Regions from separate parts of the Homo sapiens genome. Here region 2 is linked to region 1. A link means that fine-mapping ties the variant in region 1 to the expression of a gene that starts in the linked region. Tissue or cell type: esophagus muscle. Region 1 holds a variant in brackets; the other region holds the start of a gene. All regions are shown on one strand. Distances are from middle to middle.

Region 1 (5,227 bases):
ATGAATTTTGCCTGTGGTGATAAAAAGGTTTGAGTGTATTCCATGAGGTGACGACCATATGGGCAGCTTCTCTGAAAGAGATAATGAACAGAGCTATATTTCAGAGAATTTCAAGGAGTTTTTCAGCAGGAAAAGGTATTAAAGGTTATCTCAGATAATCTGAACTATTTTATAAAAATCAAATTTTAAAGGAAATCATCTCGTCTCCCTTCTTACACATATTATGATAACAGCACATTCAACCTGGGACCCATAATTTTATCCCAATTCTTTACTTTCTGGATTAAATTGCTGGGGAGGGGGAGGAAAATTGGCATTCGGAGCATGCAACGTTCTGACCAACTGCTGAATCTGAAGGGAATCACAAGCTTCATTTAATAAGATGTTTTTTCCTCCAATTCAATTTTGACCTTCACCTTGCTCCTTTCACTTTCAAGTCCACATACCACACTCACTGCTTTAGTCATCACATAGTATCTCTTCAGAGGGGGAGCTCACTATGTTGCCCAGGCTACTCTTGAACTCCTGGGCTCAAGTGATCCTCCCTCCTCAGCCTCCCACATAGCTGGAACTATAAGTGTGTGCCACCACACCCTGCTTCTTTGATGCATTTCAAAAATCTTATTTCAAAAGGTGTTTAAATCTAGGATGTCACTGACTACATAACTAAAGTAAAAAGTTGACTAATTTAAATAAATTAGCATTATTTTGCCTTCATTCCCAATTTTTGTCTTAATATTCTTCCTTTTTTTTGGCTTCAAAAATCTGGGATGGAAGGGTTGTTTAGTTGATTTGATCATTTGTTGATCAGAATAATTATCTCTTCATTTCTAAAATAATACAAACTCTTAACTTTAAAAGATGTTCTTTTAAAATAACTCACTGCAATATCCTCATTTTAAGTGGATCCAAAACATTTAGACAAGATGAGACTTACTGCATCCTCATACTTTTTAGTTTTATTCTTAACCAACTCAAATATTATGCTTTCCTACATTTTCAATTCCTTTCTTTAAAAATAGCAGTTACCAATTAGAGGATTCAGAAAAATCAGTGAATGCAATAGGAAAAAATATTTACATTTGTGTATTTTCTATAATTCATTAATATTTGGAGATTTATGTGGTTTATAGCTATTGTATCTTGTGTTTGACTTCAGTGTGATGTCCTCTACCAGCTCATTCAATTACATTGTTTCATTTATTTTCAGGATAACCATATGAAAATATTTTTTAAATCCATACATATGTTCCAGTTAATTTGATCTAAAATGCAAAACATTGACTTTTCACTTCATAATGCAGATTCTAGCAATATGTGTCTTCCATGAGCCCTCCTTTTCCAGTTGTTTTAAGGTGGAGTGGCTTTACCAAGGACAGAAGTGTCCACCTCCTTTGTCTCAAGCCCATTTTCAAATGTCTGAAAAATTACGTCCTTTCGCAATTCTCCACCAGCTTAAAGGGTTACGGAATGCTATAAGCAGAAAGGACATCCAGGGGTCTCAACTAATAACTAATGCACATTAGAACCACTTGGACATGAGGCATTTTGTTAAAATGCCAATATCCAGGCCTCAACCCCAACCCAAATGAGTTAAAATTACTTAAGGGGAGAACCTAGGAATTAGTACTTTGTTTTGAAACTTTCCAGGTAGTTCTAATATGCAGCCAAGTATGAGAACAACAGCAGAAAGCACGTCAGCTTTGGAGTTGAAAACACCTGAGTTTGAAACCAGTGCCTTAACCCTGTGCTATAATTGAGGATTGTAAATTGATATAATTGAGGATTATAAATTAGTAAATTGATATAATTTACTAATTTTTCTGAACCTCAATTTTCTTATTGATGAAATTGAAGTAATTATCTTATACAGTTAATGAAAGAATTACATAAAATGGCATATGTGGAGGAACCCAGCACAATATTAGGCAGAAAGTACATTTCCAGTAACTAATAGATTTCCTCACGTGTCCTGTCTGACATTCACAAACTGCCATTTCGCTGAGAATGATGATGATATTAGAAGTATAATGTCCTACATCACACAATCAAAGACATACCTATCTGCTTATGTTTTTCAAATAACAAGCTATGAGGTTTTCTAGAAAAGACAGTGGGCACATTTTGCACAGATTACATTCACCAATGACAAGCTACTAGAAATCTTCCCCCAATATACAGCACAATTTGTTCAATGAAAAAAGGCTTATCTCGTGCCTAAGAGTCAATGCATAAGAACTTTTGAAGCTACATTTTTCAATAGCATATTGAAATTCAAGATTAAAAGTAATTTGGAAAAAATTCCAGAAATGTACATTATGTTCTCATTCTGTGAGAACGTGTCACAAAGCATGTGGGCTTAGCAACTACACTGAAGCTAAATAGAGCTTTTAGGCAAGAGTCAAATTATGAATTTATACTCTAGCCAATTACTCAAAAGCACTTCTGTGTCCGAC[T/C]TGAGAGACCACGAGATGTTTTCATTGTCCATGATCTCATTTTTATTTTATTACTTGTTATTTACAACCTAAGCCACGAGGGCAAGTTAAAGGTCCCAGAAGAGGGAATAATTTCAGAAATTGGAAACACAAGGAAAAAGGTAATAAAATGCACTTGCTCTGACTCCATAATTTGGAAGTAGGTGATAACTGTATCTAGGAATGTCCAGCATCAATAAAAGTTCAATAATGTCATTGAGATCAGTGAAAATTGTTTTGCTTATTTAATAAGACACGGTGATTTCAAGGCCATGGTCTGTACATCTTGGATTTATGTGCTTCCTTAACTAGCGCAGTTGCTGATGTTGAAGTTGCATTCCTTAAAGTTTAACTCTGACTTTATATGAACGCAGGCTGGGCCTTTGCCTCACCTATTCTAAATATGTGATCGTTTGGTGCTGGTGGGAATTCAGATCACTTAGATGGTTACATAGTAGTGCAGGGAGGCAAAGAGGCTGGAGGAAAAGCAAGGGAGCTATTCGTAGCCAGTGCCTCCTACTCCACTGAATGCTGCCCAATGGAATTAATAGAGACTGCTTCTGGTTTGATGCACTGCTGCCTATCCTAAACTAGAACCATAACTTAATTGATATTAGTCATACATTATATCTGATTACCTCTAGAAGAAATTGTCATAAGTGCACATTAGTGAGGAGTAAGGAAGGCTTTTGCTAATAACACTACATTTCAGACTGAGTTAACAATTAATCATCTACCCCTGACTTTTACTAAAGGGTAAGTCATCTATTTCATATGGAACAACAAAGACACTATGCATAATTTCTTAAGAAAGGAAGCCCAAAAATGTTATATGTCAGATTTTGAAGCATTTGCTTTCAACCTCAAGTTTCATTTATCTCACATGCTTAAATTACTCCTAACGCAGTGATTGTCAAAGTGTGGTCTCCTGACCAGCAGTAACAGCATCACCTGTGAACTTGTTACAAGTGCAAATTCTCAGGCCCCATTCCAGAATGAATGAACCAGGAACTCTGGTGGCAGTGCTGTAAATTTGAGTTTTAACAATCTCTCCAGGTAATTATATGTACACTAACATGTGAGGTCCACCACTTTAGTGAAGTTGACATGTAAAGATACGCATTAATTGTCAGATACTACAGAATAATCTCAGGAAGCTGCATTTACAGACACCATTAGTTATGTCATGCTTCTTTCAATATTATCTGGTGTCCTACTCTGAAGAGAGAAGGACTGACCCAGGATTTATTCAAAATTCATATTTAAGCACTTGTTAATTGCTAGGTATGAAAGAAGCAAGGGCAATTCAGATAAGTACTTGCACTTGGGAGGATTAGATGAGAAAAAAATTATAATAGGGCAATAAAATATCACACCACTACTGACACCTGTATACTTAAATGAACAATCACTACTGACACCTGTATACATAAATGAACAATTTAGAACCAGGAAACAAACCATGCCACTTTAGAAGAAACTCAAGTATTCACTTGGGGTGGCTGCACACAGAAGTCAAAGGGTTATTCAATATATGATATTCATGTTCATCTTCTATTCATTTAGGTGCAATGAGAAGCACACTTGGCAGCAGAGGAGCAACCTAGGTTATTAGTGGCCATCCTATGTCCAGCAATAAGGCTACCTGGGATTGTATGTTAATTCTACCATGGGATTGTCATGACCTGCAGTCCCAAGCCTACTCCAACTCTAGGCCACTCCTGACCATCACAAAAAAATGTTATCATCAGGGGCAGCCTCCGCCGCAATACCTTAGAGACTGAAAACAGGTTCCACTGCTCCATCTGATGCCCCTGAACTACTGTCTGCTGTAGGAAAGTGCTGGTGACTCCATATTGCTTACCAGTAAGAAAATACTATTTTCCCCATCATCCCATCATTAATTATCTAAACAGAGCCTCGGTGAATGCCCCTTTGTATAGTGCAGCTGCCATTCAGTTCATCAGGCCAAGCCCTGTCCTATTTGGATTTGGCTTGCTTTCCTTCTCAGACTGCCCATAATGCTCTCATTTTAGAATGCCTTGTGCTCAATCCCATCTGTATCCAAATATATCTCCCAAACAAGCCTTGACTGGCTATATGACATTTTCACATGACTAACTACTTTGTTTGGGATTACCAAAACTACCTGTCAACATGAAAATGTCATCAAAGAATATCACCCATTAAGCCACTTACTGCAACTAAAATATGAACTCAGGTAAAATTATTGGTGTAACAGGCCAGGCCTTACCTAGGGAGAATGGAACTTTCAACAGTATTTTCTCTGTAAGCATCTGGTCAACCTAGAAGCAGTCTCAGAAGACTATATTTTTAAAATTAGGGTTGGCACAAAGTCTAAAAGGTGACTAGAAAGAATCATCAGATGACAGATGTCCCATGTCTTCTAAGAGCTCAAAAGCACTGTGAGAAATCACAGACCTTGGGATTAAACCTGAGCTTTAATCTTAATTTGCAGTGTGACCTTGGACAGTTTAACTGTTTGTACTTTATTTTCCTTATCTGTAAAAGTGAATATCAAAATATCTACTTTGCAAGGTTTCTGTCCAAATTAAATGAGAGAGAATATAAGGGTGTGTTTAACTGTGCCAGGAACAACTTTTTTAAAAAAAATCAACAAAAACAAAAGACGTTTTTTCAAGTAACACCTTTGCCACCTATCATTTTTCCATTTTCTGTAGTCTGTACCTGTAGAACCCCTAAGGCAAGTGATAAAATGGGTTAATTAGAAA
Region 2 (5,227 bases), 72 kb before region 1:
AGAATTCCTCCATCTGATTAAGACCTTTTGTTTGAACTTTCCCTAGAATCTGTGTGTACAGATATGCTACATCCTTCTCAGCACTTACAATAGTATATAGAAGTGCAGCTTTTGCTTGTTTGTTCCTTCTTTCTTTTCATGGATAAGTTACTTGAGGGCAAGGTTTGTATAATTTTCTACATGTATTCTCAGTACTGAGAACAGTGTTCAGAATGTAAAAGGCACTTAGAAAATGTGTTTTTAAAAAATAAATGATTTATAAATGCAAAACCTGCTTTTTCTCCCCAAAAGCGGGAATTGATCTCCCACTGACATGTAGTTCCCTAAGTCCGTGCATGATAACATATTCTCAGGAGAGTGGAGGAAGAGGTACACATTAAAGTACCAATATTAAAGACAAAAGAGAAATGGGTGTCTGGGAAATTACACCTTGGCACAGAAATTCACATGCAGCTTCATCCTTAGATCAGACACGGAGCGCAAAGGACTCAGCAAATGAGGAAATGTCTCCCCAGAACTAGACTCAATTCATCAGCAGTTGTCATTTTCAACTGGTGTTTCTTGTCATGGAGGACAGCCGCTCTGCCAGGCAAGAATTTGGCCACTGTCAAGGTCATTGTCCATTCTCAGATCTGGCACTGAGTCCATAGTCTGGCAAGCCTGGCTTGTCAAAGTGGATTAGGTGGGCTCTGGGAGGTGTGCTTTGGCTGCACTCCCAATTCTCATACCGAAAGGCTGGTGATGTTCTCTGAGGACGGCTGCCTCTTCAGTCTCTCTTTGGATCTGAGTCAAGCTCCCTGACCTTAGGCCTGTGCACTATTTCAGACACTGCAATTGCCCATGCCTGCCCTGCTACAGCAATAAGCTGTGTGTCATCATCATCATTAGTATATTCTGGCAGGAAATACATCAGTTAACCTGAGGCTAAGGCCCAGAATCAGAAAATGAGTTATAGAAGACAAAAACAATGAATGAATGGATGGATGAATGAATGAATGAACCTCTTTTAAAACACATGGGTAATTATATGAAATCCCATCTCTGTTTCGCTCTGTCAGTTCCTTAAAATTGCTTAAATTAATAAAATGTGTATGTAAAAATGGGGTTATATTAAAAGGCAACCTAAGTCTTTTCCAGAAAATCAATGAACTAGTCATATTACCCAGGGGAAATAACTATCTTTGCAGGCCTTTTGGCCCGTCTTAATTTCTGTTTGAACTCCCTAGGCTTTCTCACCTCAAAAGAGGTAGTTGGATGCAGTTATTGTTTATACAGAGAAGAAAGAAAAGGGGTAGTAACATAAATTTGGAAGTTAATTTCAAAATCCAGTGTAAGAAAAGGGGAGATGGTCTGATTGGCCTAGAGAGGTGAACAGTAGTTCAGAGGCACTCTTATTTATTCTATCCCTTATTAGACTTGTGTATTTCACTGTTAAATACACTCTCATGGTGGAATGCGGAAAGAAGTGAGAAAGTGGCCAGAGTGCTTGTAGCTTTGTGGCTTGTGACTCTTCTATCTTATTCTCTCCCACCCTTCTCTCTTCCTCCATTCACATTCACACAGGTATCTGCATCTATCCATGTACACCTAGATGTAGAAATACATCTATAGATACATATTTATATGTGTAATATATAAATAATCTATAAAAATAGGTAGGTATATGGATATATTGTAAACTAACACAGCAAATTTTTGTAAGCTGGAATAGGATATTCAGCAGGCCAGCTGCCCAAAGGGCTCTACCAGGAAAGCCATCTTGTCTGACTTCTGTGATAACCTCATTGTTAATCTGGACCACGCCTAGTGTCCTTCATGGTAGCCCTACTTTTAAGTGGCAGGGGTATGAATGTAAAAAGGACTTTCTAAACCTTCCTGAAATGTCTCCTTCAGGGAGCCCATCACCAGGGACGCCAGGAACAGCTTCCAACAGGGCCCAGGGGAGGCCGCGGGAGAGGACCCCTTCCCTCTCAGAGAGACTCGTCAGGAAACAATTCCAGACTCTGACCTGGGAAGAAAAGAACAGGACACTTCTCTCCTCTAGGCTTCCAGCTGCTGCTTCTGAAAATATAATCCTCTGAGACCCTCCCCATTCCCAGCTTCCAACCAGAGGGATGAGAAGTTCGACTGGGAATCACCCTAAGGAATCTCCGCCCAGTTTTCTGGAGGAGGAGATGGGAGTAGCAGGTACTTGTCTCAGGATGGGGATACCATGGCTGGCAGCGCGGACCAGAGCCCAGCCTGCCCCCCAGCTCCTTGGGCCCCGTTTCCTTCGCATCCCGCACACCCACCCTCCTCGCGAGGGCAGCGTCCCTAGCACACGCCCTAGCACCACTCTCCTCTGACGTCCGCCTCCGGATGTCTGACGATCGCCCCCGCCTGCCGCCCTTATAAAGGGGACTTTTCCCAATACTCGATCGATTCCCACCTCGCCCTGCGCCGCGCGCCCTCCGCCGGCGCCAACACCTGTCAACTCTGCGCGCTCCCAGGTTCTTGGAGACGCCGAGTGAGGAGCCGCCCTGACCGCCCGGCCCCGCTCCGCACTGCACCCCGACCCACCCCGCACCCTCCCTTTCTGCACCCTCGCACCCACACCCCTCGCGGTTCCAGGGGGCGGCGGCCCCGGGCGGAGCGCTTTCGCGTGCAGCCACCACTCCAGGTAGGAGCGGAGCGGGCATTCCTGCGCCTACGGGCCCGCACCCTCGGAAACGCCTTGGGCACCGAGCCCGGGCGGTTTTAGAGGGGAGGGACGCGGCGTTTTTCCCTCTCGGTGGGATGCGAGGGCGGGTTTGCTGTCTGGCACCGTTGCTGTCAGGGTGCAAGAGGCTACAAAGTCTGGGCGCAGGAAATGGGTAGAGGGGGCCGAGGAAAGGCCGCAGGGGGCCGGGAGAGCATCGGGCTGCTGCGGAGAGGAACTTGCCTGCTTGGTTGCTCACAAAGGCAGAGAAGACACAGCCCGCGGGCGCTTCTTTTGCCTCCTTTAAATTCCAGAGAGGCTGATTCTTTCCCCCAACGTCTCTTCACCCACCTGCACGCACAAATGTCAGAGTTTCCCCCAGAAACTTGTATGTGAGAGTTTGGGTTCATGGAACAGCTGTGGTCACAAAGGTAAAAAATAAATAAAAATAAAAATAAAAGGGGACAAGAATTTCAGAAGGTGAATGCTTTCGAACTTGACATCTGTCTTCTAAGAGTCTTGATTTTAATATCTTTGAGGCTTCTGATGTGCTTTTAGGCAATTGTGTTTAAAACAACAGCAACAACAACAACAAAACCTTTTCCTGTATGTACCATTAATGGGGGGTGATGAATTGAATGAAGGATATTGGGCGAAGAAGATCAAGAGAATGGATCCTTTCAACAACAAAAAACATACTTAGTTGCTATAGTAACTTGAACTACAGAAGCTTGTTGAAAATGTGGAGTTTGATGTGTTTTTGAAATGGATTTTTCTAAAGATTTTTTTCAGATATTTTTATATCAGATTACTACTGAAGCCATTCTCTGAAGTTGTTTGAAAGGACAGATAAAAGAATGAATAAATTAATGAATATTTTAAAATTTTCAGAATGGTCATTTATGAAACACTTAACACTTCTAGAATAAATAATTCTAGAAGAGTAACTTAGTTCCAAAACGCAGATACAGCGCTACTCTTTGTAAATGATTTGACAGTTACTGAGTTAAGATATACACGACAAGGTTAATTTTAAATTTAAAGCATGTATGAAACACACAAGGATTATGATTCCATTTGTTAAACTACATTTCCGTTTTTTTTTCTGTTTCTTGCAAACTCAAAATAATGTTAAATTGTTAAATAGAAGTAGGATAATGTAGTGGACACTTATTGTTAACTGCCCGTTTCACGTGTGGTTTCAGGGTTGTACTCTTTCTGTGAGTGGCACAGGATCTCGCATGAGCCAGCTGGTTTATTCCTGGCTGCCTACATGTGCATAGTGCTTGACTGGTTTATAATGCATCCCTGTATTTTCTTCAGAAGACTTAATGAAGTAGCCAGCTGCAGAAGAATCTGGATCATTAGATAAAAATGGCTTTCCATGTGGAAGGACTGATAGCTATCATCGTGTTCTACCTTCTAATTTTGCTGGTTGGAATATGGGCTGCCTGGAGAACCAAAAACAGTGGCAGCGCAGAAGAGCGCAGCGAAGCCATCATAGTTGGTGGCCGAGATATTGGTTTATTGGTTGGTGGATTTACCATGACAGGTACGTTCAGACGCCGCCGGCTCCATGCAGTCCTCCCTTCCTTGGCATCTGTGAGTGTGCAGCGTGTGGCTTCAGAGTGACAAAGCAAATGTTGGTCTTTGTCCTTTGGGGATTCTTTATGTTCACTAGTTATATATATTTTAAAATAATTTTCTATTGATTTAAAACCTAAAAATAAATTGGTTTCAACTCAGTAGTACTTGAACAAAAATGATTTTATAATAAATCACTGGACTGAACAGTCATGAAACAAATCTTGGCTCCCTGGGCTATTGAGTGGGTGGAAACAGAGTAAAAACAAAGAGGTGGGGGAATGGGAAGCTGTCCTAGTATTACAAGCTATGTATCTGCTAATTAATGTGATAGGCAGCATCTCAACGTGTCCGGTAATACATGCATAAAGTTGTGACTTTGAGATTTAAATAAGTGCCAATGAATACCATCTAGTGATGGTTTTTAATCTGCATAAATAAATTTGGGGGTGATGATATTCCCAATTGAGTGATTCCCTGTTTTGAAACCTAATTCTTTCATTTAATAACTAATTCCTCACAGGAAGACAATCACATGTTATGAGTCCACAGCACTAATAAAGAGATTTCATGAACCTTGTTATAAAAGGGAAAAGCTAGGGTGTGTCCTCATAGGAATCCCCAGGCCACCATCTGCAGTCATCTCTCATTCAAACCTTCTTTGTGTTAGCAGGAGCTGATATTCTTTCTTACTTTGCACTAAAGTGGTTCTGTTTAAAGGGTGATTTGTTTCTTTTTTATATTCTTCTTGGTCGTTGAAAATAATTCTGAAAAACATCAACTTAGAATTATATGTTTAATATTTAATACAGTTGCACTAACAACACATATTTCATTATACAGTCTTAGTAGAGTTTTTAAACATTTGCAACATAGCAAGAACTGTGAGCGTTCATTGGAAAAATATCCCATGGGAAATGATATCAAGTGATGCCCAATTTCAGTCCCGAAGGGCAATTTTAAAAT

Which allele goes with the higher level. Positions count from the first base shown, and alleles are read on the strand shown. Sizes are in standard deviations (SD) of each study's normalised expression.
With allele T in place of C in region 1, the expression in esophagus muscle of the gene that starts at base 2,420 in region 2 is higher (moderate effect, 0.44 SD a copy in GTEx).

The links. PIP is the estimated chance that this variant, and not a neighbour inherited with it, causes the effect.
Region 2: it holds the start of SLC5A7, and the variant in region 1 is the best candidate, but not a certain one, in a credible set for the expression of SLC5A7 in esophagus muscle (GTEx, PIP 0.69).

What each region holds. Positions count from the first base shown.
Region 1 is chr2:108,055,781-108,061,007 of GRCh38, forward strand. No RefSeq gene overlaps it. Among named protein-coding and RNA genes, the nearest start is that of LINC01593, 5.6 kb to the left of the region's middle. The variant T/C (reference allele first, on the strand shown) is at 2,457.
Region 2 is chr2:107,984,105-107,989,331 of GRCh38, forward strand. SLC5A7 (solute carrier family 5 member 7) reads left to right here and starts at 2,420. Exons shown (of 9, transcript NM_021815.5): 1 at 2,420-2,659; 2 at 4,001-4,229. The coding sequence starts at 4,052.